Regions from separate parts of the Homo sapiens genome. Here all the other regions are linked to region 4. The links come from fine-mapping of genetic effects on gene expression. A gene starts in region 4. Each other region holds a variant in brackets. All regions are shown on one strand. Distances are from middle to middle.

Region 1 (7,676 bases), 22 kb before region 4:
CAACCTCTGCCTCCCAGGTTTAAGTGATTCTCCTGCCTCAGCCTCCCAAGTAGCTGGGATTACAGGTGCACTGCACCATGCCCAGCTAATTTTTGTATTTTTAGTAGAGACAGAGTTTTACCATGTTGACCAGGCTGGTCTCGAACTCCTGACCTTAGGTGATCCACCCACCTCAGCCTCCCAAAGTGCTGGGACTACAGGCATGAGCCACCACACCCTGGCTTTCTGCTTAGATTTTTAGAAATTCACACACAGTCCAGACACTAACCCTTTGTTAATTATATGGATCAAAGATACTTTCTCAAACCAGCAGCTTATCTTTTTACTTTGCTTATGATGTCTCTTACCAAAATTAGTTTTTAAATTTTCATGTAATTAAAATTATCAATGCCTTTTATACTTTTTGAATTATGTTCAAGAACTTCTCCCCTACTCCCACATGACACGACTGTTCTGTATTTTGTTCTCTGAGTTTCAAAGTTTTACTTTTTTACATGAGTCTTAAATCCATCTGGAAATGAAATAAGGGTTTAATTTTGTTTTCTTCCATACAGTCAACTGTCACTGAATTATGTTTTAAACAGTCTTTTTCCCATTAATTGATATATCTCACAAAAGACATTCCCATAAATTAATAGATCCACAGACTGGTTGATTTCTATCTGGCTTCGCAATTTTGTTCCATTGGTCTGTTTATCCATTCATAACCTAATACCACACCATTTTAATTATTAGAGCATTATAATATATCTCTAGTGTTCTTCTTTCAAGCCTTCTTGGCTTGGCTTTGCCCTTGATTATTCCATATGATTAAGCCATCCTTGGATTTCTGGAAAAAACTATCTTCAAACTAAAAAAATACTTCATAGTCACCTGTAGATTCAAGTTGCTAACATTAATAATTAACAATTACATACTTCTATTCATCAGTGAGATTAGTCTGTATGGTGTGAAGGCTATACTAGCTTCATAACATGAAGTGATGAGAGTTTCTTTTTTTTATTTTCTGCAAGATTGATTAATTAATCAGTTATTTAGACAGGGTCTTGCTCTGTCACCCAGGCTGCAGTGCAGTGGCACTACCACAGCTCACTGCAGCCTCGACCTCCTTAGCTCAAGTGATCCTCCCACCTCAGCCTCCTGGGTAGCTGGGACCGCAGGCATGCACCACCCAAAGTGCTACGATTACAGGTATGAGCCACAGATTTATTTTTAAAAAACAGGAATTAATCACAGCCCTTTGTGAGGCCAAGGCAGGAGGACTACTTGAGGCCAGGTGTTCAAGGCCAGCCTGGGCAACATAGCAAGAACCTGTCTCTACAAATAAAAAAAAAAAAATCAACTAGGCATGGTGGTGCCCACCTGTGGTCCCAGCTACTCAGAAGACTGAGGTGGGAGGATCACTTGAGCTAAGGAGGTCGAGGCTGCAGTGAGCCATGATCACACCACTGCACTCCAGCCTGGGTGACAGACTGAGACCCTGTCTCTAAAAAATACAATAAAATGGCCAGGCGCTGTAGTTCACGCCTGTAATCCCAGCACTTTTGGGAGGCCAAGGTGGGCGGATCACCTGAGGTCAGGAGTTTGAGACCAGCCTGGCCAACATGGTGAAACCCCGTCCTTACTACAAATACAAAAATTAGCCGGGCGTGGTGGCGGGCGCCTGTAGTCCCAGCTACTCAGGAGGCTGAGGCAGGAGAATGGCGTGAACCCGGGAGGCGGAGCTTGCAGTGAGCCGAGATTGCGCCACTGCACTCCAGCCTGGGCGACAGAGTGAGACTCTGTCTTGAAAAAATTAAATAAATAAAACAATAAAATAAAAACATTAAAAAGCAGGAGTTACCTGTTCCTTCACAGTTTGATAGCAGTAAAAACCCAGTGTGTCCATGCACACACCCATCAGATGTTCTATTTTCTCTCTCAAGTCAACTTCGTTAGGCTGTTTTTTTCTCAGAATTATCCATTTCTGTCTCTTCATTTTTTTCTTTTGATTCTTAAAAATCTCTACAAATCTTCAAATTACAGCACCTTTTCATTTCTACTATATCTTATCCTTTTTTTTTTTTCTTTCTGAGATAAGAGTCTCACTCTGTCGCCCAGGCTGGAGTGCAGTGGTGTGATCTTGGCTCACTACAGCCTGTTCTAAACTCACGAATGCACCAATCACGACTGCACCATACGCTTGAAATGGGGGAACTGTGGGATATGTGGATTATACCTCAACAAAGATTTCTCTTCAGTGTCTGTGCTTTTATGTATGTGTGTATGTATGTATGTTTGTATATATTTATTTGAGACAGGGTCTTGTCCTGTTGCCCAGGCCTGAGTGCAGTGGTGTGATCTCGGCTTTCTGCAACCTCTGTCCCCTGGGTTCAAGCAATTCTCCTGCTTCAGCCTCCCAAGTAGCTGGGACTACAGGCACCCGCCACCACGCCCAGCTAATTTTTGTATTTTTAGTAGAGATGGGGTTTCACCATGTTGGTCAGGCTGGTCTCGAACTCCTGACGTCAGGTGATCCTCTTGCCTCAGCCTCCCAAAGTGCTGGGATTACAGGCGTGAGCCACCGTGCCCAGCTACATTTTTTTCTTATCAGTCTTACCAGAGGTTTGTCTATTTATCAGTTTTCCCAAAGAACCAGATTTTTGTCTGAGTTTATCTTTTCTTCTGTTTCTCTGTTTCTGTCGCTAATTTTCAGTCCTTCATGTGTATGTTTATATCGGTCTATAAAAACTCTGGAAATACATACATCAGACTGATGATAACAGTTACCTCTGAGTAGGAGATAAATGGGGATGTGCCAGTGAAGGCGGGTCGTCACTTTTGTTTAAATTTTTATTTTTAGAGATGGGAGGGGTCTCACTTTATTGCCCAGGCTGGTCTCGAACTTCTGGGCTCAAGTGATCCTCTCACCTTGTGGCCTCCCAGATGCTGGGATTATATGTGAGCTACTCTGCCCGGCCCTGTTTTTTTTTGAGATGGAGTCTCGCTCCGTCTTCCCACACTGGAGTGTAGTGGTGTGATCTAGCTCACTGCAACCTCAGCCTCCCTCAAGCTGATTCTTGTGCCTCAGCCTCCTAAGTAGCTGGGATTACAGGCATCTGCCACCACACCTGTCTAATTTTTGTATTTTTAGTGGAGGTGGGGTTTTGCCATGTTGGCCAGGCTGGTCTTGAACTCCCCTAAATGCCTGCCTCGGTCTTGCAAAGTGCTAGGATTACAGGCGTGAGCCACGGCTCCTGGCTGTCACTTTTTATTCTATAAAAAGTACTGTTGGGAGGCCGAGGCAGGCGGATCACGAGGTCAGGAGATCGAGACCATCCTGGCTAACACGGTGAAACCCCATCTCTACTAAAAATACAAAAAAAAATTGGCCAGGCGTAGTGGCGGGCGCCTGTAGTCCCAGCTACTCGGGAGGCTGAGGCAGGAGAATGGCGTGAACCTGGGAGGCGGAGCTTGCAGTGAGCCATTGTGCCACTGCACTCCAGCCTGGGCGACAGAGCGAGACTCAGTCTCAAAAAAAAAAAAGTACTGTATTTTTTGAACTTCTGAAATGAGAATATATCTGTGTATTTCTTGTATAACTTAAAAGCAGCAATTAAGAGCAGGATAACAGTGGCACTGAAACGACCTAGTTTGGGTAACTATAACTTCGAGGATGGATTTTAGAGCAGGATGACTGTGGCACTGAAACGACCTACTTCGGTCACTGTAACTTAGAGAAGGACATATATTTGCCTCTTTTCTCTGCCGCTGGGAGAGCTCTGCCGGGATCGGAATAACCCCCTTTTCCTCCCATGATCCTAACAGTTTAGTTTTTGTACTTTCTTTTCTTTTTGAATCCAGACCTATTTGCATTGCAGTTTCGTTCAACTTAATCTCATAATGAATATCGGAAGTGACGTCGTA[C/T]GGACTGAAAACGCATCTGTCCATCACACCAGCACGGCGGGGCCTGCTCCTGCCCTCTAGGTTGGTGCTGAGCCCTCCGACCTGAGCTCTCACCTGCTGCTGCTTGAGGTCTGCCCTCCACAAAGACAGGAACTCGTGTGTGCTCACCGATGTTTCCCACACCCCTGAACGGCGCCCAGAACACGATAGGTTTTCAACAATATGTGGTGAAAAGAACTGCATGGCCCACGGCTGTGAAGATTCGCCATGATTTGCACTCAGACATAACCGAAGCAGGCTGTGAGCCCGTTTCCATGTCCTACCAATCCCACATTTGGATGTCTCCTAACTCCATCTGCCTCTAATTTCACCATTCCACCTGGTCCAGGTGTTCACCGAACTGAGCTGAGACAGCCGGCATCCTTTCCGCCCTGCGAGGTTCTGCCTGCTGCTGCTGCTGCTGCACTGGGTCCCTGGGCCCCAGCCGGGTCAACAGCTCTTCCCACTCCCGGGAGCTCTGTGGGGTTCCCTTCCTCTGGGGCGGCTCCGTCAGGCTGGTCTCTGGCATCCTCATTTCTGCGCCCTTGGGTTGAGGGTGGCGCTGATTCCTCCCTGCCCTTAATGATGCACTTGAGCTTTGCCCCATCCGTGAGGACACACACTATGGTCTGTGAGTCACACAGCCAGGATCTGAACCAGGCTCTGCCATGTACAGCGGTGGTCAGGCCAGCACGCAAATTCTCCCGGCCTTCGGTGTCCTCACCCTGGAAATGGGGTGGGTGACTGTGTCCGTGTGGTGTGGCTGTTCTGAGGACAAGCGCAGCTCAGCAGGAAACTGACACATGCCGTGTGCTCACCAGGCAGGAGCTGGAGCCACACACCCCCAGGCTCCAAACACTGGGGACTGGCCCGGCTGCCCCTCACGTCTCCTCTGCCCTGCAGGATGAGCACGCAGCCCCCTTGACCCAGCACCACAGCCAGGCTGGGGAAGGGCAGAGTGGTCTCAGCCCCAGGCCCTGCCCACCCGACTGATCCTCAGCTTCTCTTCCCAAGTGACTTGAGCCTGCAGCTCATCGTCTGCACTGGCCTTCACCATAACCCGTGGATAACTTATCCACTAATAAATACACTTTAATTATTAAATAATTAAACATTAATAAATAGAAAAGTGGAAAGGTTTGAAAAGAATGGTTTTCACCTTAAAAAGTAAGTAATTACTTAAAAAGCAACCATGGATATATATAGCGCAATTATTATGCTCTTACTAGTATTCACAAACTCAGTACAAATACATACATAAAACCAAGATAGCCTCTCAGAGATTCTGTGATCAATACAAACCACACCGTGGCCCTCAATAGGCACAGAAGTTACCAACTGAGGAAGGGGTGAGCCAACCACACAGCCCCAGCTGCCCACAAGGGCTAAGAGACGGCAAAAGGCCCTCTGCCGTCCCAGGAGCAAGCAGTTGCTGCAGCCGGACCCTGGCCACTCACATGGGTTTCTCCTTTTCAACTCAATTTCAAAGAAATTTTTTTACTGCAAAAAGATTTTTGGCCAGGCATGGTGGCTCATGCCTGTAATCCCAGCACTTTGGGAGGCCAAGGCGGGTGGATCACCTGAGGTCAGAAGTTTGAGACCAGCCTGACCAACATGGTGAAACTCCATCTCTACTAAAAATACAAAATTAGCCGGGTGTGGTGGCACACACCTACAATCCCAGCTACTTGGGAGGCTGAGGCAGGAGAATCACTTGAACCCGGGAGGCAGAGGTTCCAGTCAGCCAAGATCACACCACTGCACTCCAGCCTGGGCATCAGAGCGAGACTCCGTCTCAAAAAAAAAAAAAAAAAAAAAAACGGTTTGTAACCTCATCTCCCAAACAATTCAACCATGTTTTAATTAAATTTTGATTTCTCAGCGGAATCATTTTGGCAGCACCAGAAACAGGACAGTTCGGGCATACCGCAGGAATTTTCAACATACCTGGTAGTATTCTTCCAACAAGAGCATCTAACAGCCAAAAAGATTCTTCTTCATTATTTGTTATAAGAATCAGATATCCTGCTATAAAATTCATTCCCTGAAATTAGAAAAATGAGAAACAAATTCACATTGAGTTTTAAGCCCCCATTTGATTCTGCAATCATTCGGCTACAAACTACCCAGTTTCCATTTCTCTTGCTTCTCCTTAAAACCTGCATAATTGCAGAATGATCCTTTAGTAGAACTCTAGAGTCACTAAATACCTACCGTCTAGTAATGTGTTTAGTCAAGCTTACGTGAAAAGTAAAAGCAAAAGGAAACAGTTTAAAGAAATCCTGAATACTAAAATCAAAGACTCTTCCACTAATGGTAACCTTGTGATAAAAGAACATAACTTACCATTGCTTTCTAAAGAAATTACTATATATCAACAGCATGAAACTCTCTGCCAGAGAGAAAATTATACCAATGACCACATTTTATAAAACCGTAAGGAACATGTGCTGACACGCGGGTGTTAGGAGAATTTCGTGGTGGAGACCCTTTTGGGAAATCCACGTGCACACCTGCCAAAGGGCGGGTGCTGCCTCCAACATCACGTATGTGACCCTCTCCATCGAGGGCAGCCCCAGACCCTGGGGGCTTCGCAGCCGTGAGTCAGCGCCATTTCCAGGTGACTGCGTTTTACACGACTGAAATTCTCTTCTTTGTCACTCATTTGTAATTTCTAAAGTAAGTATTTCTCTAGTAATAAGGGAAAAGAATCCAGCTTCTGCCAGCCCACAAGATCAATTCACGTGATCGGAAGTGCGGAGGGGCAGCTGCAGAGAGCGATGCTGGCAGCAGCGCGGCGGCTTCAGTCACACAGGGATGTGGCGCTGTTCACCCGGAGCCAAAGCACTGGAGGACGGGCACGCAGCCTTACACGTCCCTTGGCCTGGACCTCCCCTTAAAAACAGACCCTAAGAGTTTCACTCAAAAAGCAAAAGTAACCAGTGCAGAGAAGATCATGTTCCAGAAGATGACGATGGAAGCTCTGGGAAGAACCGACTGCTTCGAGCTGATGACGGAAATGCTGGGAAGACCTCTGTGGCCAAAAGCAGACCCAGGAGGACTTTTGTGGCCGAGAGTGGACCCGAGAGGACCTCTGCGGCTGAGCAGACCTGGGAAGACATCTGTGGCCGAGAGCAGACCCGGGAGGACCTCTGCGGCTGAGCAGACCTGGGAAGACATCTGTGGCCGAGAACAGACCCGGGAGGACCTCTGTGGACAAGAGCAGACCCGGGAGGACCTCTGTGCCTGACAGTGGACCCGGGAGGACCTCTGTGGCTGAGAGCAGACCCGGGAGGACCTCTGTGGCTGAGAACAGACCCGGGAGGACCTCTGTGGCCGAGAGCAGATCCGGGAGGACCTCTGTGGCTGAGCGGATCTGGGAGGACCTCTGTGGCAGAGAGCAGACCCGGGAGGACCTCTGTGGCCGAGAGCGGACCCAGGAGGACCTCTGTGGCTGAGAGCGGACCTGGGAGGACCTCTGTGGCTGAGCAGACCTGGGAAGACATCTGTGGCCGAGAACAGACCCAGGAGGACCTCTGTGGACAAGAGCAGACCCGGGAGGACCTCTGTGCCTGACAGTGGACCCGGGAGGACCTCTGTGGCAAAGAGCAGACCCGGGAGGACCTCTGTGGCAAAGAGCAGACCCAGGAGGACCTCTGTGGCCGAGAACAGACCCGGGAGGACCTCTGTGCCTGACAGTGGACCCGGGAGGACCTCTGTGGCTGAGAGCGGACCTGGGAGGACCTCTGTGG
Region 2 (7,676 bases), 29 kb after region 4:
TGAGCAGAGATCATGCCACTGCACTCCAGCCTGGGCAACAGAGCGAGATTCGGTCTCAAAAAAAAAAAAAGTCACTTTCTCACAGGCCCAGGAGCCCCAAGTTATCTTGGAAACTCAAGAGGAGAGAAATTTACTCAACTTACAGGTATTTGAGGGTACAAACCCATGGCGGGGCTCAGTTCTAAAAGAGTCTTAGCTAAGATTCCTTCTACGGAACAGAGTTCCATCAAAGCCAATTTAAAAAGAACCTATGTGAAAAATATTCTTGCTGCCCTTTATACAAATAATCAGGCCAAGTATAATAAAGTAAATCAGTCTTACCATGATTTGCCTTTAGTAAAAATGGGAAACTAGAGAGAGAAATATTATGTTTCAGGAACTGTGGTATGTTGTTTTTAAATTCTAGTCTCATCAGTTGTTTTTAGATTTGCTTCTGGAATTTAGGCTAACCTTGCTTATTCCTGTGAACCAACCAGTGAACTCTGACTGCTGCTCAGAAGAAATAAGAGGGATGGGTAATGTAAAAATCTGAATCAATATTCTAATTCTGGGCACACTAGAATTGGCTAGCAACCTCACATCATCTTGGTTCCAATAGTTGCCCAGTTCATGAAAAGCCTTCTAATTTAGTTTACTTGGAATAATTGTACTTATTTTGCTTTACTATTGTGGAATATATTGTTGTTGTACTCTGTGTAGGTATGCAAAATAAACTTGCTCAATGTTTTCTTAAACTGAACACTTATTAATTGCCCAGATATCACCTTTTGTTGGAACTTAAGAGTTATGAATAGCCCTCACCACACTGATGCCTTCTGACTGTGCTCCTCTCTACCCTGAACACAAGGGACCCTAATAGTTAGGCAGGAATGTCATCGCCCCTATTCAGCCTGAAGAAGTTACAGAAGATGGATCTTCATCCCCCTGCAACTCTTAGGATTAAGGGTTCTCTTATAAAAGGGAAAGAGAAAATGTCAGGCATGTTTGAACCAGAGCAACTCCATCTTGAGTAGGAGCTGGGTAAAATGAGGCTGAGACCTATTGGACGGCATTCCCAGGAAGTGAGACATTCTAAGTCACAGGATGAGATAGGAGATTGGCACAAGATATAGATCATAAAGACCTTGCTGATAAGACAGGTTGCAGCAAAGAAGCCGGCCAAACCCACCAAAACCAAAATGGCCACAAGAGTGACCTCTGGTCATCCTCACTGCTACACTCCCACCAGCTCCGTGACAGTTTACAGATGCCATGGCAACGTCAGGAAGTTACCCTATATGGTCTAAAAAGGGGAGCATGAATAATCCACCCCTTGTTTAGCATATCATCAAGAAATCACCATAAAAATGGGCAACCAGCAGCCCTCAGCTGCTCGCCTATGGAGTAGCCATTCTTTATTTCTTTATTTTCTTAATAAACTGGTTTCACTTGTCTCTATGGACTCGCTCTGAATTCTTTCTTGCGCGAGATCCAAGAACGCCCTCTGGGGGTCTGGATCGGGACCCCTGTCTGGTAACAACTGCAGATATCTCCCTCCAACACATTGAGCTGTGTGTTGATGTCTTGGAACTTGCTAGCTGTGAATTAACCTAACAATGCCATCCCCCACCCTGCAACCCACACCCTGCAGCTCAACGGTGCACAGCCCATCACTAATCAATGTTATTTCTGTCAACCAACAAGAATTCCTGAAAAACAACTTTGTATCAGCCACTCCCTGTTCCCCTTTTTGCCTTTAAAATCCTGATTGTAATAAAGGCCTAATGGGGCTCATATCCAAGGCCACTCGAGTCTCCCAGGCAGCTGTCCTCACCTTGGCTCAAGTCAACTCTTTAAATCATAATTTGCACCTCAGCCTCTTCCTTCTTGTCACCCTTACGTAAGTGGGATCCCACAGAATTTGTCCTTCTGTGTCTGGCTAATTTCACTCAGCATGGTGTCCTCAAGCTTCACCCAAGTTCCAGGGTAGGGAGGTTTTCATACAATTTTGTAGCCCGCGTAACCTCTCTACTGTGGGAGGTGCTCCGAAAGTGAATTTGGTTGACTCTCTTTCCTCCTTGAGCTTTTCTTGGACACATTTCTGGCTTGGTGGGCCAAAGTCTGCTAAGAAGAAACTCATCTCTGTCCATCAAAGGGGGAAATGGTGAGGGCTGTATGCCCTGGGAGCGGCCACCCTCTCAGAAGACACAGAAACAGAGCACTTTAACCTCCTTCTATCAAAGTCCTAGAAGAGGAAGGTGTGCTTTAAAAACAGACTCTTCTCATGAATCCTGTTGAAGTCTCACTCACTCTGTTGCCTAGGCCGGTGTGCAGTGGCACCATCTCAGCTCACTGCCAGCTTTGCCTTCTGGGTTCAAGCAATTCTCCTGTCTCAGCCTCCCAAGTAGCTGGGACCACAAGTGCCTGCCACCATGCCCAGCTAACTTTTTGTAGAGATGGGGTTTTGCCATGTTGGCCAGGCTGGTTTTGAACTTTTGAGCTCAAGCGATCCACTCGCCTCAGCCTCCCAAAGTGCTGGGATTACAGGTGTGAGCTACCGCGCCCGGCCTTTTTTTTTCTTTCTTTTTTCTTTTATTAAGACAGGGTCTTGCTCTGTTGCCCAGACTGGAGTGCAGTGGTACAATCTTGGCTCACTGCAGCCTCAACCTCCTGGGCGCAACTCATCCTCCTGCCTTAGCCTCCCAAAATGCTGGGATTACAGGCATGAGCCTCCGTGCCTGGCAGTGGGATCCTCTTTACCTGAACTGCCCAGGGACCTCCATAAGTATCCCTGGCTGGGGGCCGTGGGTCACGCCTGTAATCTCAGCACTTTGGGAGGCTAAGGTAGGAGGATTGCTTGAGCCCAGGAGTTCAAGACCAGCCTGGACAACATAGCAAGACCCTGTCTCTACAAAAAAATACAAAAATTAGTGCATACCTGTGATCCCAGCTACTCAGGAGGCTGAGGCGGGAGAATTGCTTGAGCCCAGGAGGTTGAGGCTGCAGTGAGCCATGATTGCACCACTGCACTCCAGTCTGGGCGATAAAGTGAAACCCCGACTCTTAAAAAAAACGGGCTGGGCACGGTGGCTCACGCCTGCAATCCCAGAACTTTGGGACGCTGAGGCCGGCGGATCACCTGAGGTCAGGAGTTCGAGACCAGCCTGACCAACATGGAGAAAACTCCATCTCTGCTGAAAAAAAAAAATTAGCCAGGTGTGGTGGCACATGCCTATAATCCCAGCTACTCGGGAGGCTGAGGCAGGAGAATCGCTTGAACCTGGGAGGTGGAGGTTGCAGTGAGCCGAGATCGCGCCATTGCGCTCCAGCCTGGGCAATAAGAGTGAAGCTTGGTCTCAAAAAAAAAAAAAAGTATCCCTGGCACCTTCTCACAGACAGAACAGGGAAAAGGAGGGGCGGTTTACATCCCTGTGGAGCACAGCAAACCCACACAATGAGCCTTTCAGGTGTGGGGGGCAGGAGCAGGGCGGGGGCTGTCTCCCAGGGACCATCAGTCGGTTGGCTCAGGGGCTCAGGAGCCCAGGCCCGATGCCAGGAAGCTTCTCACCCCTAAGGAGAGGACACGCAGTCAGTCCGACTGGCAAAGTGGCCGGATCAGCGCCTGGCTGTGCCACCCCACATGGAGTGCCACACGCGGTCACAACAGCCCCATGACGTAGGTCCCAGTATTACTATTTTAGGGAAGACTGTGGTACACGCACCCGGACACACAGTTGCACATATGGCCACACAGGCCTCCACCTCTACTACCCAGACAAGTGCCCCAGTGCGCATCACACATGCACATGGGTGTGTACACAGCCTGCCCAGACACAGCCCTCCACAACACAGGGACCCACCCATGCACACACGCGTGTGCACACACACCAAGCAGACACGGCCCCTACACAACACAGGGACCCACCCATGCACACACGCGTGTGCACACACACCAAGCAGACACAGCCCTCCACAACACAGGGACCCACACATG[T/C]ACACACTAAGGAAATGTGGAAACACTACGTGACCTCCGGTGGCAAGGCCATGGCTGGAAGCCCTGCAGCCTCTCCGGCTTCCAGGTCCTGATGCCAAGGCTGCCCCTCCCAGAATCCACGAGGAGGTCACCGTCCCCGCTCCGCACCAGGGAGGGGCTCCAGAAGCCCGGAGGCCAGCGCCGAGGTCCCCGCACGTACGCCTGTGTCCCCGGCTCTGGGGAAGGCAACCGTCCCTTAGGGGGCCGGGAACCTGCGCGCCGCCCCGACTCCCGCCCACCCCGGCGGCTCCCGGCGGCTCCCGGCGGCGTCCGGATGTGGCAGCAGCTCGCGGGCCGGGGCTTCCTCTTGCAGCAGCCGCCGCCCGGGAGGCCGGCAGCGCCCCCTGGCGGACTCAGGCAGGAGGCGTCCGGCGAGGCGGGCGCGGGGTAGGCGGGCGCGGGACGGTGCAGCCCGAGGCCTGTCCCTGCAGGTGCAGGAGGGACCCGTCGCTCCCCTGCGCACCGAGGGGGCGACAACCCCTCCCAGAGACCTGCTGCCCGCGGAGCCTCCCCCAGTGACTCGTGCGGTCCCCAAAGGAGAGGCGGGAAGCCGAGTCCTGGAGAAGCCTGGAGACAATGGGCAACAGGGGCATTGGGCCTCCGTCCAGCCCCCGCCAGCGCCCCAGGGTCACACATAGGCCTTTATTTTCTGATCCTGAAAGTGATGCAAGTGCATTTAAATTAACGCAGAAAGCAGTGACAGATAACGACGGGAAAACACACCTACACATCGGGTGTTCGTGGATAACCACTGCTCACCTTTTTTCGCGTTTCTCTTTCTTTGCCCCCTTCACACGTATTTACATATTTGAATCTACTATTTTATACTGGATTTTTTTTTTCTTTTTGAGGTGTAGCTTCACTCTTGTTGCCCAGGCTGGAGTGCAATGGCGCCATCTCGGCTCACTGTAACCTCTGCCTCCTGGGTTCAAGCGATTCTCCTGCCTCAGCCTCCTGAGTAGCTGGGATTACAGGCGTCCGCCGCCACCATGTCCAGCTAATTTCTGTATTTTTAGTAGAGATGGGGTTTCCCCATGTTGGCCGGGCTGATCTCGAACTCCTGACCTCAGGTGATCCACCCTCCTTGGCCTCCCAAAGTGCTGGGATTACAGGCATGAGCCACTGCGCCCGGCCTTATATTGGATTTTAAACATTAAATGGTACAATATTTTCCATTTCACAAAGTTCTTCCTCAGCTAATTTTAAATGACTGCTATTTCACTGAATAAGACACCACACTTTATTTAACTAATCTCTTTTTTTTTTTTGAGAGGGAGTCTTGCAATGTTGCCCAGGCTGGAGTGCAATGGTGTGATCTCGTCTCACCGCAACCTCCGCCTCCTGGGTTCAAGCGATTCTCCTGCCTCAGCCTCCCTAGTAGCTGGGATTACAGGTGCCCGCCACCACGCCCAGCTAATTTTTTGTATTTTTAGTAGACACGGGGTTTCACTGTGTTGGCCAGGCTGGTCTTGAACTCCTGACTTCGTGATCCGCCCGCCTCGGCCTCCCAAAGTGCTGGGATTACAGGCGTGAGCCACCGCGCCTGGCCAACTAATCTCTTAATTGGTGGACATTTGTGTCACTTATGGCTGTATCTTGAGTAGTACCACGCTGGACAGATTGCTTTTCCTAAATACAGTTTCTCAAAGCTGGAATTGCTGGGCTGAGGAGCCACCCCTTCTAAAGGTTCTTGACATTATTGCCAAATTGCTTTATAAAAAGGAAGGGCCAATGTTTGGTCCCATCAGGAATGACTGTCTCCGTACATCCTCAGAGGTAGTGAGTGTTACCGATTCCTTTTAAAAATTGGGGGTTTTGGTTCTCAACTTGATAGACCCATGAGAGTTCAACTTCATGTCTTTGACCACCACGCACGCAGTATGTGGTCCGATACGGCACGTCCACCGTGGATGTTGATGGGGACAGCCCCGTGTGCTCCAGTATGTGGTCCGATACAGCACGTCTGCTGTGGGTTTTGATGGGGGCGCCCCTGTGTGTTCTTTTTTTTTTTTTTTTTTTTTTTTTGAGACGGAGTCTTGCTCTGTCGTCCAGGCTGGAGTGCAGTGGCACAATCTCGGCTCACTGCAAGCTCCGCCTACCAGGTTCACGCCATTCTCCTGCCTCAGCCTCCCGAGTAGCCGGAACCACAGGCACCCACCACCACGCCCGGCTAATTTTTTTGTATTTTTAGTAGAGACGGGGTTTCACCGTGTTAGCCAGGATGGTCTCTATCTCCTGACCTCGTGATCCGCCTTTCTTGGCCTCCCAAAGTGCTGGGATAACAGGCGTGAGCCACCGCGCCCGGCCCCCTGTGTTTTCTTGAGTGCAGGGGGCAGAATCCATCCTGGGGAATTTGAGCAGAAAGGGACATGGTGAGCAGTGTGACAGCTCCCAGCTCCTTGCAGGACTAGAGGAAAGGCCTCCAAGCCCAGCTCTGCACTGGCTAATGAGCTTCCTTCTCTCAGCTTCCCTGGAAACATCTTTCTCTGCACACCCAGGAGACTCCATATCACCGGCTCGTCCTCACCGTGGGCCCAGAACCTGCTGTGCCCTGCCGGCCTGGGGAGGTTGCGTCTCCCTGGCAGAGCTGCATGCGTCCCAGCAGCAAGGAAGGCTGGGGATGTGGGATGTGGGACTGCCGTGCAGAGAGAAGACAGGATTCATGTTGTGGGGAGCTGTCAAAACGTAGAAAAATAGCCCCACTTTTGGGGCTCCCATGAAAGACTGGGGTCTTATTCATATGTTTGAGCCCCTTTGGAATTTGAAATGAAGCCGAGTTCCCTTCCTAACGACACAGAGCTCGCAGAAGCCGCCTCTTCTCTTGGGCGTCCACCGTCAGCTCTTTCTGGACTTTGTTCTTCCTGTATGTGTGCGGCTTCCTGCCGTTATCAAAGTCCAAGAATTTCATCAGTTTCTTATTTTGTTTTATTTTTTAACATTTTATTCATTTTTTTTTAAGATACAAGATCTTGCTATGTTTCTAGGCTGGCCTCAAACTCCGAGGCTTACGTGATCCCCCCACCTCAGCCTCCTGAGTAGCTGGGACCACAGGTGCTGCCACCGCACCCGGCTTCTTGATTATTTTATCATCATCATTATTGATTGAGCAATGGAAATCTGTAACTTATTTGGTGCTTTTTTTGGGTTCTTATTTCTTCAAGATTTGGAAAATTCTTCCCTACGTGCAGATTTGCTGGTGGGTTGAGCGCCTTCTTCCAGTTGGGGATTAAGACATGACTTCCAGTGGTACAGGCCGTAAGGAAACAGCCATCCAGAGAATTCAACAGCTCTTTCTCCGCTCTTCAATACAACATGACCTGTGGTCTTTTGTTCTTTTATTTTTTATTTTACTTTCATTTTTAAATAGAGACGGGGTCTCACTATGTTGCCCAGGCTGGTCTGGAACTCCTGGTCTCAAGTGGTGAGAAACAAACTCATCTGTCCAAACCCAGAAGAAGGACTCGGAGACCCGGAGGAGAGTGAAAGGGAGACTTTCTTTCTTTCTTTTTTTTTTTTGAGACAGAGTCTCGCTCTGTCACCCGGCTGGAGTGCAGTGGCGTAATCTCGGCTCACTGCAACCTCTGCTTCCCGGGTCCAAGCAGTTCTCCTGCCTCAGCCTCCTGAGTAGCTGGGATTACAGGTGCACACCACCACACTCAGTTAA
Region 3 (7,676 bases), 92 kb before region 4:
CCAGAATGGAGTTCTGGAAGGCTGCGAGCAGGTATGCGAGAATCTTTTCTATGCATATACCATTTTGTATTTTTTTAATTTTGTGTCAAAAGAATGTTTAAAAGTAATGACAAATTATTAAGAAAACAAAATGGCCCCACCCACTGTGTTGTTTCTTTACCATAAAACACAAGGAATCAGCCAACCCAAAGTAATTGCACTTCCCCGCCCGCTCTCCTCCCAACCTAATCCACTGTTGTCATCAGTTATTTTATGGGTTACCTTTGTAATTGTAATGGACATATTGAAACCCTATTCTCTCGATCCATGAATATACTCAGTTTCTCATGAAAACCTCCTGTATTGGCAGGCCAGGCACAGTGGCTCACACCTGTAATCCCAGCACTTTGGGAGGCCGAGGCGGCGGATCACGAGGTCAGAAGATCAAGACCATCCTGGCTAACACAGTGAAACCCGTCTCTACCAAACAAAAAATTAGCCAGGCGTGGTGGCGCACGCCTGTAGTCCCAGCTACTCGGGAGGCTGAGGCAGGAAAATCACTTGAACCTGGGGGGCAGAGCTTGCAGTGAGCCAAGATCGCACCACTGCACTCCAGCCTGGGCGACAGAGCGAGACTCTGTCTCAAAAAAAAGAGAAATGTAATCCTTTGTTTGTGCAGCTCAAAGAATATTCTAAGCATCAAAGACAAGCTATTTCTTTCCACATTCCATTAAAGCTGAAAATGTATGTCATGTTTTAACTTGCTTTATATTTGCACTATGGCATTTTTGTCCAGCTTTTTTTTTTCCTGGAGTTTTTAATTGCTACTGATGACCAAAAAAAAAAAAAAAAAAAGATGCCTTTTGTCTTATCACTAAGATAATTTCCTTATCACAGTTTGCATAAACCCAATTTTTTTCTTAAAACACACATTTCGGAGCTGGTCACGGTGGCTCAAGCCTGTAATCCCAACACTAGGAGGCCGAGGCAGGAGGATCATGAGGTCAGGAATTCCAGACCAGCCTGTCCAACATGGTGAAACCCCATCTCTACAAAAAATACAAAAATTAGCTGGGCGTAGTGGCTCGTACCTGTAGTCCCAGCTACTTGGGAGGCTGAGGCAGGAGAATCGCTTGAACCCAGGAGGATGAGCTTGCAGTGAGCCGAGATTGCACCATTGCACTCCAGCCTGGGTGACAGAGCGAGACTCTGTCTCAAAAAAAAAAAAAAAATCATTTATCAGAATCCTCTAATAGTGGTTTTCTTGTTGTTTTGGGGTTTTCGTGGTTTTTTTTTTTATATGGAGGCTCACTCTGTCATTCAGGCTCGGGTACAGTGGTGCAATCTCAGCTCACTGCAACCTCCGCTTCCCAGGTTCAAGTGATTCTCCTGCCTTAGCCTCTGGAGTAGCTGAGATTACAGGTGTGTGCAACCACACCTGGCTAATTTTTGTATTTTTAGTAGAGACAGGGTTTCACTGTTGTCCAGGCTGGTCTCAAACTCCTGACCTCAAGTGATCTGCACGCCTCAGCCTCCCAAAGTGACAGGATTACAGCTGTAAGCCACGGCACCTGGCCCTCGGATAAGTAGTTTGGTTTTGGTTTTGAGACGGGAGTGCAGTGGCGCAATCTCGGCTCACTGCAACCTCAGCCTCCTGGGTTCAAGCAATTCTCCTGCCTCAGCCTCCTGAGAAGCTGGGATTACAAGCGTGTGCCACCACGCCTGGCTAATTTTTTTTGTATTTTTAGTAGAGATGGGGTTTCACCATATTGGTCAGGCTGGTTTCAAACTCCTGACCTTGTGATCCGCCTGCCGTGGCCTCCAAAAGTACTGGGATTACAGGCGTGAGCCACCGCGCCTGGCCTAATAGTTTTTTAAATTGAACTATGGGCCAGGCATGGTGGCTAACACCTATAATCCCAGTACTTTGGGAGGCTGAGGTGGAAGGATTGCTGGAGGCCAGGAGTTTGAGACCAGCCTGGATAACAGACCTCAGCTCTACAAAAAAATTTAACAATTAGCCAGGCATGCTGGTGCTTGCCTGTAGTCCCAGCTTCTCAGGAGGCTGAGGTGGCAGGATCACTTGAGCCTGTGAAGTTGAGGCTGCAGTGAGCTATGATCGCACCACTGCACTCCAGCCTGGGCGACAGAGTGAGACCCTGTCTCAAAAAATAAATTAATAAATAAAAATAATATAAATAATACAATGAATCAGCTGGGCGCAGTGGCTCACGCCTGTAATCCCAGCACTTTGGGAGGCCGAGGCAGGCGGATCATGAGGTCAGGAGATTGAGACCATCCTGGCTAACATAGTTAAACCCCATCTCTACTAAAAATACAAATAATAATAATAATACAATGAATCATTTGCCTCTTTTTTTTTAAGAGACGAGGTCTCACTGTGTTTCCCAGGCCAGAGTAGAGTGCCCTGGCCATTCCCAGGCACAATTCGATGCACCCCTACTTCCGGCCACATCATTTGGCTTTTGAGCCCCTGCATAGCTGTGATCCTGGAACCCATTTTCTCTGCATTCCTGTGTAGTTCCACTCCTTGGATCTCAGTCTTCTCTTTTTCTTGTCTTCTGGTTTTATTAAGTAGATTCTTTTTTTTTTTTTTTTTTTGAGACAGTCTCACTCTGTTGCCCAGGCTGGAGAGTGCAGTGGCACGATCTCAGCTCACTACAATCTCTGCTTCTTGGGTTCAAGCGATTCTCCTGCCTCAGCTTCCCAAGTAACTGGGATTACAGGTACACCACCACGCCCAGCTAATTTTTGTATTTTCAGTAGACATGGGGTGTTGCCATTTAGCCAGGCTGGTCTCAAACTCCTAACCTGCCTCAGCCTCCTGAGTAGCTGGGATTACAGGCACACGCCACCACGCCCAGCTAATTTTTGTATTTTCAGTAGAGAAAAAGCCAGGCTGGTCTCGAACTTCTGACCTCAGGTGATCCACCCACCTCGGCCTCCCAAAGTGCTGATTATAGGCGTGAGCCACTGTGCCGGGCCTCATTAGGTAGATTCTTAAATGATCTTCTCAGAAAGAATGCCTGGGAGACAAATTTCCTGAATCCTGGCTGGACTGTTTTTATTTTACACTTGTGTTTGATTGTTGGTCTACATAAAAACTCTAGGCTCAAAATCACTTTCCCTCAGAACTTTGAAGGGATTGCACTGCCATAGTCTTCTATTTTCTAGCTCTAAAGTCTGATGCCATTTTGTTAACTAACCTGTAGTTCTTTCATGTCACTTTTGGAATCTTCTGTTCCTGGACTTTTGGTATCTCACAAGAGTGTCTCGGTGTGTGTCCACTTTCATTTGGCCTCTGCCAGCCACCCACTGAGCCTTCAGACTGGAAGACTCCGGACTTCTGTTCCAGGAAGTGTTCTTTTTTGACATTCTACATTGCCTCTTCCCCTTCAACTTCTTTGCTGTCACTTTCCTTAGCACTAATCTTTCTAAGTAAACCAACTGGAAGGTCTAATGAGAAGAAGGGCTGGCCTCACCCCTCCCCACTCATAGTTCACTGTCCATCTTTGTTTCTGGTTAGCTTTTCTCTTGGTGGCCTCTATTATCAGATTATTGTTTCTTGGTTTTCTTTTTAATAAAAGATTGTTTTATGTTTTTATATTATTTCTTATTTTTCTTTTTAATAAAAAATTGTTTTTATTTTATTTCTAGAATATCTTCTTGAACCTCAAACTGTCCTCAATGGGTTAGCAGGAATTACACGCCGGGTTCTGGGCAGAAATGGAGTCATAACTAAGCATGAATCAGGCTGCACTTTGGCCCACTTCCTTGTAACTGGAAGTCTTGTAGCCCTGGATACTGATCATTTGCACCCCCATTATTCTCATAGATAGGACCACTGACGTTAGAACCATAAGGCTTTAAACATTGCTTAATATGTTTTTCAGATCCTCAATTCCAGCAGAACAGCTGACATCAACCAGTCAAAGGCTCCCACAGGGCGCTGAGGCGGCATGAGAATGCAG[G/T]TTCTTCATCCCCCCATCCCATGATTTTAGCCTGCACTCTTCAACCCATCAGCAACTCCCACACCTCGGCCACTCCGAAACCCTTAAAATCCCCAGCCCCAAACTCCTCTGAGAGGCGCGTTCAAGGCTTCCTCTGTCTCTTGTTCAGTTCCCCTCTGGGTGTTAAGCTCCGTCTCTGCTGCAATCCCCAGTGTCTCAGTGTACTGACTTCCTGCACATCAGGCAAATGATGTTAGGATTAAAATTACACACCAGTGGGGCGCGGTGGCTCAAGCCTATAATCCCAGCCCTTTGGGAGGCCAAGGTGGGCAGATTGTTTGAGCCTAGGAGCTCAAGACCAGCCTGGGCAACATAGTGAAAACCCATCTCTACAAAAAAATATAAAAATTAGCCAGGTGTGGTGGCACATGCCTATACTCCTGGCTGCTCAGAAGGCAGAGGTGGGAGGATTGCTTGAGCCCAGGAAGTCAAGGCTGCAGTGAGCCATGATGGCACCACTGCACTCCAGCCTGGGCAACAGCGCTAGATGCCGTCAAGAAAAAAATTGAACTAGTGCCTCAGAGAGTTGTCAATTTTTTTTCTTTAAGACAGGTCTCAAGCTCAAGCACGTGTGTTGTGATCTGGGCCCCCATTCGTCAGGCTTCTGAAGTCGTGTTTTTAGGCACAAGCCTGTCCCCAAGTCTATAGCATCTGGTGCACAGTGCTCAGTAAACACTGAGGAGTGAATGAAGCAGGGCCAGTGGAAGGAACAAAGACCAGCAAGATAAGAATGGGGAGAAGTACGAGTGTGACAGAACAAAAGAAGGGAGTTTTAAGGTATGGTGAGAATCAGAAACAGACCATCACGGTGGCATCTCGGGCCATTCAGTTTGTGTGCTGGGCCCGACGGGTAGTGGGTGCGGCGAGATGTAGCTGGAGGCAAGGCAGAGGCCAGGGAGAGCTGCTCTCGGGTAATGAGAATTGAGCAAGCATCAAACTGAGCAAGCAAGAGAGAAAAGGGGAGAATCTGAGCATACGGAAAGGAGAAATAACTGCGGGCAGGTTTCCCAAACAGCAGGGGAAACCACATCCCCGCGCAGCGTGCTCCTCCCAGGGAACAGAACAGGGAAACCACATCCCCGCGCAGTGTGCTCCCCCGGCAGAGGTCCTAAGGAAGCCGAGGGGCGGACAGCCGAGCAGAGGTAAGGCTTTCTGTGGTCCGTGATGGAGGAACCAAGGCCAACTGCAGCACAAGTTGAGGGAGCATTGTACTGAGAAGTGGACGCCTGCCAGGAGTCCACTCTTCACAGAATGAACAGCACCTTCAAGGCACTGGGATCAGCAGAGAAGCTTTAACACTGGCCAGGTCCCCCCTCTGCCAGGTCCTCCATCTGTCACTCTCCAGGTGCCCCTGAGCAAATTCCTGCAATTCTTTAAACCTTGGTTTTCTTATAAGTGGAGATAATAATCCTACTTACCTCATGGGGTGGTTCCAAGTGAACACACACAAAGCTGCTTAGGACACGTACTACACACCAGCAAAGAGGAATGAGTCACAGTCACGCACAAGCACAGTGCCTCTTCATCAGGAAAACCCAGTTCCATACAAATCTAAGTGGCTTATCTTCAGAAACATTAGTGAAGAGCTGAAGCAAACACTGTCAGCTGGGAAGTCTGTATTCAGTGAACATACATTTCTGAATGGAGGCAAAGTATGCCTTTTCAGACAGAGACCTCTAGTAGGAGAAGTGCAGGAGGAAGGAGCTTCAGCTGCTGGAAAGCAAAGCCAGATAGAAGCCAGGGTCTGCCGAAGGCCTGGGGAGCGCCCGCACTTGCAAGCATTTGGGTAGACACTCACACAAATTAGCTACACAATCATTATTTTCTTTAAAAACAACTGTTGAAAGCAAAAATAATATATGTTGGCATTAATACCATATGTAGAAGTAAAACGAATGACACGACACAAAGAATGGGGAAAGAAATGGTCTGGTGAGTGTGATGAGCTAGAGATGCGTGTGACAGCCCTGGGGGAAAGGGGAGATGGTCTAGTGAGTGTGATGAGCCAGAGATGTGTGTGACAGCCCTGGGGGAAAGGGGAGATGGTCTAGTGAGTGTGATGAGCCAGAGATGTGTGTGGTAACCCTGGGGCAGCCACTAACAATACCAGAGAGAGAGGCAAAGAGAGAAAGAACAAGCCAACAGAGGAGACAAAGTATAATTTGAAAGAACACTCAATCCAAAGTGTTGACAAAGAGTCAAACTGTGAAATATTTGAAGAGATTTATTCTGAGCCAAGTATGAGTGACCAATGGCTCATGACGCAGCCTCAGGAGGTCCTGAGAACATGTGCCCAGGGTGGTCAGGACACAGACTAATTTATTTTTAGGGAGACATGAGACATCAATCAAATACATGTAAGATGTACGTTAGTTTGGTCTGGAACAGGGGCTGTGGGAGGCTTCCAGGTTATAGGTAGATCTAAAATGTTTCTGATTGGCAATTGGTTGAAAGAGTTATTATCTAAAGACCTGGAATCAACAGAAAGGAATGTCTGGGTTATAATAAGGGGCTGTGGAGACCAAACTTTCACCATGCAGATGCAGCCTCCAGGTGGCAGGCTTCAGAGGGAACAGATTCTCATGAGGCTTAAAGAGTCTGTTCTATCAATAATTCCAAAAGGCGGTATCATGAGTCATGTCTGACCCCTGCCCCCATCATGGCCGGAGCCAGCCCTTCAGGTTAGCCTTGGAAATGCCCTCCCTGATACAGCGGTCCATTCAGATGGTCTGAGGGGGCTTTGAATTTTATGTTTGTTTTACAAAAGGCAGACAGGAAATTCTTTTTTTTTTTTTTTTTCAGATGGAGTCTTGCTCTGCCACCAGTCTGGAGTGCAGTCATGTGATCTTGGCTCACTGCAGCCTCTGTCTCCTGGGTTCAAGCAATTCTCCTGCCTCAGCATCCCGAGTAGCTGGGCTACAGGTACCCGCCATCATGCCCAGCTAATTTTTATATTTTTAGTAGAGACAGCGTTTCAACATGTTGGCCAGGCTTGTCTCGAACTCTTGACCTCGTGATCTGCCTGCCTCTGCCTCCCAAATTGCTGGGATTACAGGCGTGAGCCACCGCGCCTGGCCTGGAAATTCACTTTTAAAAGGGAATAAAGAACGGATAGGACAAATGGAAATGGAAAGAGGGTGGACTTGAACCTGACCATCTCATTAATTTATTGGTAACAATGACATAAACAACACTCCAGTTAAATGCCAAAGATTTTCAAGCTGTATAGAAAATTAAGACCAAAGTATATGCTGTCTACTACAAAGGCACTGTTATTTCAAGAGAGAGGATCTCACTGTGTCACCCAGGCTGGAGTGCAGTGGCACAATCACGGCTCACTGCAGCTTCAATCTGCCAGGCTCCAGCAATCCTCCCACCTCAGCCTTCTGAGTAGCAAGTGTGCGCCACCACAACTGGCCAATTGTTTATATTTTGTAGAGATGACATCTCACTGTGTTGCCCAGCCTGGTCTCAAATTCCTGGGCTCAAGTGGATCCTCTGCCTCAGCCTCCAGAACTGCTGGGACGACAGGCGTGCGTCACCATGCCCAGCCCAGAGAGTCATTTTAATAAAGACACAGATGAGTTAAAGGATGAAGAAAGACCACGAGACGCACGCAGCTGGCATTGTCTTCTCTGTACAACTGTTACAGCAGTTTCCAGAGCC
Region 4 (7,676 bases):
CGTCCACTCCAGTTTTATACCCGACCCTCTGCTCTTGGGGCTTTGCCAGTGCTCATGGGCACCCTGACGGTCACACTGGGACCCAGGCCCCAGGCCAGTAGAGACACGCGATCACTGACTCCATGTGCCTCCCACCGGAGTCACCAGCATCCCTACTCCCTGCAGAACAGGCCCACAGCCCTGTGGCTCCCACCCCTCAGGCTGAGGCTCATATAGGATCAAAGAGATATATTTGCTCACAGACCCATTTATGCCAGTGATGCTTGCTACCATAATTACATGGTCCACTTAACATTACATAAATTAGCCCAGCATGGTGGCTCACGCCTGTCATCCCAGCATTTTGGGAGGCTGAGGTGGGCGGATCACTGGAGCTCAGGAGTTCGAGACCAGCCTGGCCAACAAGGCAAAACCCATCTCTCCTAAAAACACAAAAATTAGCCGGGCATGGTGGCGAGTGCCTGTAATCCCAGTTACTCAGGAGGCTGAGGCAGGAGAATTGCTTGAACCTGGGAGGCAGAGGTTGCAGTGAGCCGAGATTGCGCCACTACCCTCCAGCCAGGCTGACAGAGCTAGACTTTGACTCAAAAAAAAAAAAAAAAAAAAAATTAAAGCAAAAAGAAGAAAGTTGTTACTTCAATAAAAACAAAATGAAATTTTTAGAAAGAGTTGATAGAGACCAATGCTAAAAAAAAAAAAAAAAAAAAGCAAAAACAAAACTGTTGACTTAGGTGTAAAATAATTGCAAAGGAGTGGGGAAAAGAATAAAAATCTGGAGGATTTTGCATCCGGATTGCTCTTTTCCTTTTCCCTGCTCTTCCCAGAACCCCCTCCCAAGTCCATATTGGAAAGTGGGGGCAATGTGCTGAGTGGTTCCCTAAAAAGGAAAATATGGAACCCAAGTTAGCAGCTCCTGGTCGAAGAAAAGGACAGCAATAGGACAGACCCAAATGGCAAAGGCAAAGACGGGAGAATGACTGTGCAGTTGTGTTTTCTGTAAAAACAAAAATTTATGCACAACCATACATCTTTCAGATTCTCCGCTGTAACCAACCTCCAGGTCACAGCCACAGGACTTCCCACGGACTTCCCCTGCTCTTAAAGCAAACTGCAGAACCAAGCGTGGACTTCTGCTCCTGAGGGGGACGGAAGGACAGTCCCCTGCGGTCATCTCTATAGGAGATGGGGGCCATGGGTGGGAGAGAAACTCCCTGTTGCACTTTGTAGCCCTCAGTATGATTAAAGTGTTTACCATGTACATAAATTATGCTTTTTAAGTTCACATGTCTTATATACTTTTACGTTACTTTTTAAAATTAAAAGACAGTTAACTTTTAAGAATAAATCAGGCGCAGTGGCTCATGCCTGTAATCCCAGCATTTTGGGAGGCCAACGTGGGCAGATCCCTTGAGGTCAGGAGTTTGAGACCAGCCTGGCCAATATGGTAAAACCCATCTCTACTAAAAAATAGAAAAATTAGCCTGGCGTGGTGGTAGGTGCCTGTAATCCCAGCTACTTGGGAGGCTGAGGCAGGAAAATCGCTTGAACCCAGGAGGCAGAGGTTGCAATGAGCTGAAATCATGCCACTGCACTCTAGCCTGGGCGACAGAGTGAGACTCCGTCTCAAAATAAAAAAAATAAGAAAATAAAAAATAAATTAGCCAGGTGTAGTGGTGTGCACCTGTAATCCCAGCTACTCAGGAGGCTGAGGCAGGAGAATCACTTGAACCCAGGAGGTGGAGGTTGCAGTCAGCTGAGATCGCACCACTGCACTCCAGCCTGGGCGACAGAGTGAGACTCTGTCTCAAAAATAAATAAATCAAAAAGAATAAATGAAAAGGAAAAATAAAGACACACGTTCCACTGGAAACATGTGAACATGCAGAGGCCACAGGGATGGGACATGATGCATTCGTGGGAAGCATATAGGATATTAACTTCCATCTCTATAAAAAATTTAAAAATTAGCCAGGAGTGGTGGCCACACCAGTGGTCCCAGCTATGCGGGAGGCTGAGAGGGGAGGATGGCTGGAGCCCAGGAGGTCAAGGCTACAGTGAGTGGTGATTGTGCCACTGCACTCAGAGGGATACCCTGTCTCAAATAAATAAATAAAAGCAAAAGTTGATCTTGTCACCCCCTGCCTGGAAAACCTTTAACAGTTGGCTTCTCTGTGCCTGGCCGTGGTCACCACACACCTCCGACCCTCCGCCCAGGTGCAGGGCCCCTGGTTTCATCTCTGTCCTTCCCCACCAGGTCCCTACTGCTCGGTCCCTGGAAGCCCAGCTGCCATTCACATCCCCCTTCTCAGGAAGCCCCCAGGACTCCCCTTTGACCCCACTTCTCTGAGTTCCTAGCTCCAGGGCACACTCCCACCAAGCCCTCACCCCAGGCAGACACTTCATTCATTCACTGAACACACAGGGAAGTCGCCTGGCACTGCCCCAGGTTCTGAGGACTGAGCAGTGAATGAAAAATCCGTTGCAGGGAGGAAGGGTTTTTGACTCCAGCAGGGGCTGTGCTGGGAAAGGCAGAAATGAGGAGGTGCCCTCCGCACAGGGAAGCCTGGGGCGCCCCGGAGGAGGGGGCCCTGCAGCTAACCCCGAGGCGGGCGGGCGGTCAGGCCGGTGCTCACCGCAGCAGTAGGAGGCCTGGGGTCGCGGAGGAGCGGCAGGTCGAGCAGGGCCCTGTGGGTCCCGTCACAAGGACGGAGTCTCGCTCTGTCGCCCAGGCTGGAGTGCAATGGCGCAATCTCGGCTCACTGCAACCTCCGCCTACTGGGTTCAAGCGATTCTCCTGCCTCAGCCTCCAGAGTAGCTGGGACTACAGGCAGGAGCCACCACGCCCGGCTAATTTTGTATTTTTAGTAGAGACGGGGTTTCACCATGTTGGTCAGGCTGGTCTCAAACTCCTGACCTCGTGATCCGCCCGCCTCGGCCTCCCAAAGCGCTGGGATTACAGGCGTGAGCCACCGCGCCCGGCATGGATCGAGTTTTGATCCATCCCGATATGGCTCCCTGCTGGGAGGGACGGGTCTCCTTCGCGTCCGACCCGCCGGCCCATCTCAAAGCGGGAAAACCGGTCCCTGCGGCTGCCCTAGCTCGGAGCCCGCAGCTTCGTCCCGACCTGCCCGGAAAGGTTCCTCCCCCTCCCTCCGCTCCGGGAGCCCGGACTTTGCCCGGCCCGTCCCAGCCCAACCCACCTGCGCCCTCGGGACCCACCTGCGCCCCCGGGACCCACCTGTCCGGCTCCTGGGGACGCCCCCGCCCTGCAGCAGCCGGGACCATTTGATCGCCCTGCGGGTGAGCGTGACCAGGTAGCTGGAGAAAAACTTCTCGTAGGCGGCGTCGTCGAAGTCCTCAGGCCGCTCGAATCCGTACGGGTCGATCCTGCAAAACCGAGAGAAGGAGGCCGGCGTCCCCGAAGTTTCCTCTGGGGGGTCGCGGGCCCGCGCGGGGACCGCAGCCGCCGGGGACGCCCGCACCCCGCGCCACACACCTGGGGACCCGCGAGCGCTCGGCGGGCTGCATGCGGGGAGGGAGGCGCGCACCGAGCGAGGCCAGCGGGTCCCAAGTTCGCCTCCCGGCTCCGGGGCGCTTAAGTCCTTCCGGCGGGACCGCGGGCGCGTGGGGGCGGGGCGGGGAGCGGAGAGGGGCGGGGCTGGAGGCGGGGGCGGGGGGGGGCAGGGCGGGGGGAGGGGCGGCTGGGGGCGGGGAGGACTTGGGGAGAGAGGAGGGGCAGGAGCGGGGGAGGGGCAGGGGAGCACCCAGGGCGGGGGAGGGGCGGGGCTGGGGGCGGGAGGACCTGGGGAGAGAGGAGGGGCAGGAGCGGGTGAGGGGCGGGGGAGGGCCGGGGGAGGGGCAGGGGAGCACCCAGGGCGGGGGAGGGGCGGGGCTGGGGGGGCGGGAGGACTTGGGGAGAGAGGAGGGTGGGGGCGGGGCGGGGCCTGCTCCCGGGGCTTCCGAGGCCGCGGCGTCCCGCGGGCAGAATCGGGGGCGCCTCCCGCAGAACCCCCGCGGCCTGGACCCGGGTGAGAGGAGCTTCTTCTGCGATTCCTTCAAACCTCAGTGCCTGGCCGACCCGACTCTGACACCTGACTCCTATTTTTATTTTATTTTTTATTTTCTCCGCTGCATTTCAAGGCCGAGACCAACACACAAATGAGAAGCCCCCAGGGGCGCCCGCCCGTTCCTGCCCCCCCAAACCAGGGACCGGGGTCCCCCCACCGGCGAGCCAGGCCTGGGAGAATCCGGGGCAGCTCTGGTTCCGAACGGCTTCTTCTCGGTCCGCATCCAATGACATTGTCCTGAGATTTCAGCTGCTTTTCGTGTCCGGGAGGCCCCGGAAATTTGCCAGAACTGCAGATTTTGAATTTTGCTCTGGCGACGTGGCAAAGGGGAGCCCCCAGACGTGAGGCGCTGGGGCGACCTCGCCCTGGGTCCCCCAGGGGTCTGGAGCGGGGGCTCCTCCGACAGGCCTCTCCCCGCCTGTAATTTAGGCCCAGGGCGACCTGGACAGGCCCCAGGAGGAGGCCGTCCCCGGACTCCAGACGCACTTTCCTGTGAGAAGCAGCCCGGCCTCGTCTGGGTGAGGCGAGGATCACAGGCTCAGCGTCCCCTGCGCGTCCGTCAGGGCCTTTCGGAACCAACTTGGGACCTTCCCATGGGTGTTTCCGGAATGTTCCATGCGAGCGCCACCCAGGAGCCTGGTCAGCAGCGTGTGGAACGGACCGGTCCCTAAGTGCGGACTCCCGCCTCTGCCTTTCACCCTTCTCCAGCCCTTGCAAGACCGGGGGGCGGGGTGGGGGTCAGTGCCCAGCGGAGCAGAGCCCCCGACACGGTTCCTCCCGTTCCTAGTCTGCTGGTTCTGGGAACTCCCCAAGCTTTCAGCCCAGCTCCTCAGCACTGGCCTTTGGTAACACGCGGCGTCCCTCATTTGAAAGATCACACAGCCCCCACTCTACGGTCTGACCTCCTTGGGATGTTTAGACCCAAGCCAGGAGACAGGGCCATAGCCTCCTGCCCCTCGGCCTACGGGTGCCCCACAGTCCAGGACTGACAGGTGGGCGTCCGTCCCCAGGGTCTTCGAACCCCGTCTGGGCTCCTCTCTGCCTAAGTCAGTGACTCCCTGAACCCCTCTCGGGCTCTAACTGACGCCCGAATTTCCTATATCGCATCCCTCGCGCTTTCTGGAGCAACAGACACAGTCCTGCTCCCCACTTCCCAGCACCCGGGGTCCTGCGCCCAAATCGCCCCACACCGCGCAGCTTCTGTTCCAACCCCAGGCCTGGAAGCCTCACGGCTCCCCTTTTCCCTAATTCCTGCCTTCTGGCCATGGAGATGGGGTTCTAACCTCCCTTTCCCACCACTGCCGTGGAAAGCAGCGTGGCAGGCAGCACGGACCAGGGGCCGCCAGCTCCCGAGCCTGAGTGTGATGGCGGGACTGCCACCAAGTGTATTTTTGGGCCAGATGTAGGGAGACTGTGGGGGAGCAGGTCAGATAAGAGCGGTGCCCTCCAGGAAGAGTGGAGAGGAGAGATACAGAGAGGCCAGAGCCCCAGGCTCTGTGCAGGGTGGGCAGCCAGACCGAGGCAGCTAGAAAGGTCTCCCGCTCCAGCCCAGGCCTGGCCAAGCCCCAACCTGGGACCTGACTGGGAGACAGCAGCTCCTATCTGGAACAGCTCCCACCTGGGACAGCTCCCACCTGGGACTGTGTCCCTCAGGTGCCTCCATTCACCGCCCCCCCGACCCCAGTGCCAAGCACCCAGCAGGCACCCGAGCATCCTCACACAAACTCCCTTTCTGTGAAGCCACCAGCACAGTCAGCCATGATGCAAAAGCCAGGTGCACACCCACCCCAGGAGTGACTGTGCTGGCCACAGCCGCTCCAGACAGCCCTTTCCGGGGGAGGCTTTGCAGTGCTGGAGCTCTGGGTCAGCTTGCCCTGCAGTTCAGGGACTCAGAATTCACCCTCCCCCGGGGGACCCAGCTCCCTTGCAGGAGGCCCTCTTCAGTCTGAGGGGCCTCAGGGGCCACACCAGGGGGCCTCTGTGGGGTCACCACCCATGATGCCCCTCCTCCCTTCAGGAATTCAGCCGTCTTGTTGCTTTTTTTTTTTTTTTTTTTTGAGTCGGAGTTTCACTCTTGTTGCCCAGGCTGGAGTGCAATAGCTCAATCTCGGCTCACTGCAACCTCCGCCTCCTGGGTTCAAGCGATTCTCCTGCCTCAGCATCCCAAGTAGCTGGGATTACAGGCATGCGCCACTACGCCCAACTAATTTTGTATTTTTAGTAGAGACGGGGGTTTCTCCATGTTGGCCAGGCTGTTTTCGAACTCCCGACCTCAGGTGATCCGCCCACCTTGGCCTCCCAAAGTGCTGGGATTACAGGCGCGAGCCACTGTGCCTGGCCCTTGTTGCTTTTTTTGTAGAAGCTGCTGCCCTTTGGAAGTTAGAAGGGCTTCAGGAGTACTTCAGTTCTGGGGTGCCCATCAAGATAGAAGGAACGTCTAGCATCCCCAAGGCCGGGAGGACCTGAGAAAATGGGATGTGAGTACAGAGGACAAAGATAACGGCAGCAGAACCCACCGAGCAGTGATGAACCATGACGTGGGCATCTTCGTGGAGCCACAGCATGTGCCAAACCCCACGGAGCTCCAGGCTGTCCTGGAGGCTGAAGCCAGTCAATTGACCACATGCTGCCTGGTTACAGGAGACGGGCAACTGGGAGTGGGGAGGGTCACCCAAATCTCACTGCAGGAAATTCCAGTGCAGTGCGACTCTAGCCCTGAGGGGAGGACAGGTCTTGCCAGAGACCTGTGGGTCCTGGTGCTGCAGAGCTGGCTGGGGACTGGGACGCTGCATTTCCAACCTGCTAGCAGGAGGCCCTGCTCTGGCCCATGGACCGCATTGTGCAGCCAGGCTGTGGAACCCGTGGCCTGATTTTCAGCAGAGGGCTGGAGACAGAAATCGGCGGCGAGGGGGCAATGTTATAGGTGGAAAGGGTGTGTTAATATTTCAGGGAGAGTCAAGCCCTCATCTGAGGTGTGTGTGTATATACATACATAATAATATATAACAGTAATGATTATTTTTAAGGAAAATTGACAGATAAGCTTTACCTGAGCCCTATGATCCTGGGAGGTTAGGAAGTCCCCCCCTTTATGTTCTGGAAACAGCTCAGAACCCTGTCCCCAGGTGACAAAGATGAGATTCATGATGTCCCTTATTTACCTGTGACAAGGCTGGACACATCCTCCAAAGTCCTGTCTTTTGCCTCATAAATATGTAACTGAACTGTTGTTCTAATTGGAACCAAATACACTGGTGACCAGTTCTGGTTAAGTCTCCTCCAGGGCCCTGACCGTGGGCCCAGTGACCAGTTCTGGTTAAGTCTCCTCCAGGGCCCTGACCATGGGCCCAGTGACCAGTTCTGGTTAAGTCTCTACCAGGGCCTTGACTGCGTGCCCAGCCTCAGCCTGGGCAGGGGTTCAGATGCAGCTTTCTCGCATTGCTGCCTGGTCAACAGGCCCCCCACCCCCCCTCCCCACACCTGCTGCTCCACTGCACACAAGAAAACCGCGTTTTGCCCAACTCTTGAGACCTCACCGGTCTGACACACTTGCAATCATCCTTTCAGAAACAGTACCAAGTCTAGATTTTTTAAAACGCTCTCAATTTA

Which allele goes with the higher level. Alleles are on the strand shown, and positions count from the first base shown. SD is a standard deviation of normalised expression in the study named. Not every link is listed here.
For the expression in monocytes after Pam3CSK4 of the gene that starts at base 3,607 in region 4, G is the low allele of the variant in region 3 and T is the other (large effect, 1.1 SD a copy in Quach 2016).

What was found. PIP is the estimated chance that this variant, and not a neighbour inherited with it, causes the effect.
Region 1: its variant is fine-mapped to the expression of GRTP1 in atrial appendage (GTEx, PIP 0.97).
Region 2: its variant is fine-mapped to the expression of GRTP1 in lung (TOPMed, PIP above 0.99).
Region 3: its variant is fine-mapped to the expression of GRTP1 in monocytes after Pam3CSK4 (Quach 2016, PIP 0.95). The same link has a PIP of 0.9 or more in macrophages, monocytes, monocytes after LPS and monocytes after R848.

What each region holds. Positions count from the first base shown.
Region 1 is chr13:113,338,992-113,346,667 of GRCh38, forward strand. GRTP1 (growth hormone regulated TBC protein 1) reads right to left here. Exons shown (of 8, transcript NM_024719.4): 5 at 5,872-5,968. LOC124903217 (MAGE-like protein 2) reads right to left here. Exons shown (of 2, transcript XM_047430838.1): 2 at 5,975-7,676. The coding sequence ends at 6,879. Among named protein-coding and RNA genes, the nearest start is that of GRTP1-AS1, 8.8 kb to the right of the region's middle. The variant C/T (reference allele first, on the strand shown) is at 3,907.
Region 2 is chr13:113,389,792-113,397,467 of GRCh38, forward strand. No RefSeq gene overlaps it. Among named protein-coding and RNA genes, the nearest start is that of GRTP1, 30 kb to the left of the region's middle. RefSeq lists an enhancer at 3,672-4,213 and silencers at 4,131-4,480, 4,491-4,600. The variant T/C (reference allele first, on the strand shown) is at 3,974.
Region 3 is chr13:113,268,922-113,276,597 of GRCh38, forward strand. It overlaps the pseudogene LDHBP1. Among named protein-coding and RNA genes, the nearest start is that of MIR8075, 9.8 kb to the left of the region's middle. RefSeq lists enhancers at 5,061-5,560, 6,513-6,807. The variant G/T (reference allele first, on the strand shown) is at 3,972.
Region 4 is chr13:113,360,524-113,368,199 of GRCh38, forward strand. GRTP1 (growth hormone regulated TBC protein 1) reads right to left here and starts at 3,607. Exons shown (of 8, transcript NM_024719.4): 1 at 3,497-3,607; 2 at 3,239-3,387. The coding sequence starts at 3,528. It overlaps GRTP1-AS1 (GRTP1 antisense RNA 1), which reads left to right. Exons shown (of 2, transcript NR_120385.1): 2 at 1,036-1,345. RefSeq lists a silencer at 3,191-3,485 and enhancers at 4,473-5,166, 5,167-5,860, 6,555-7,248.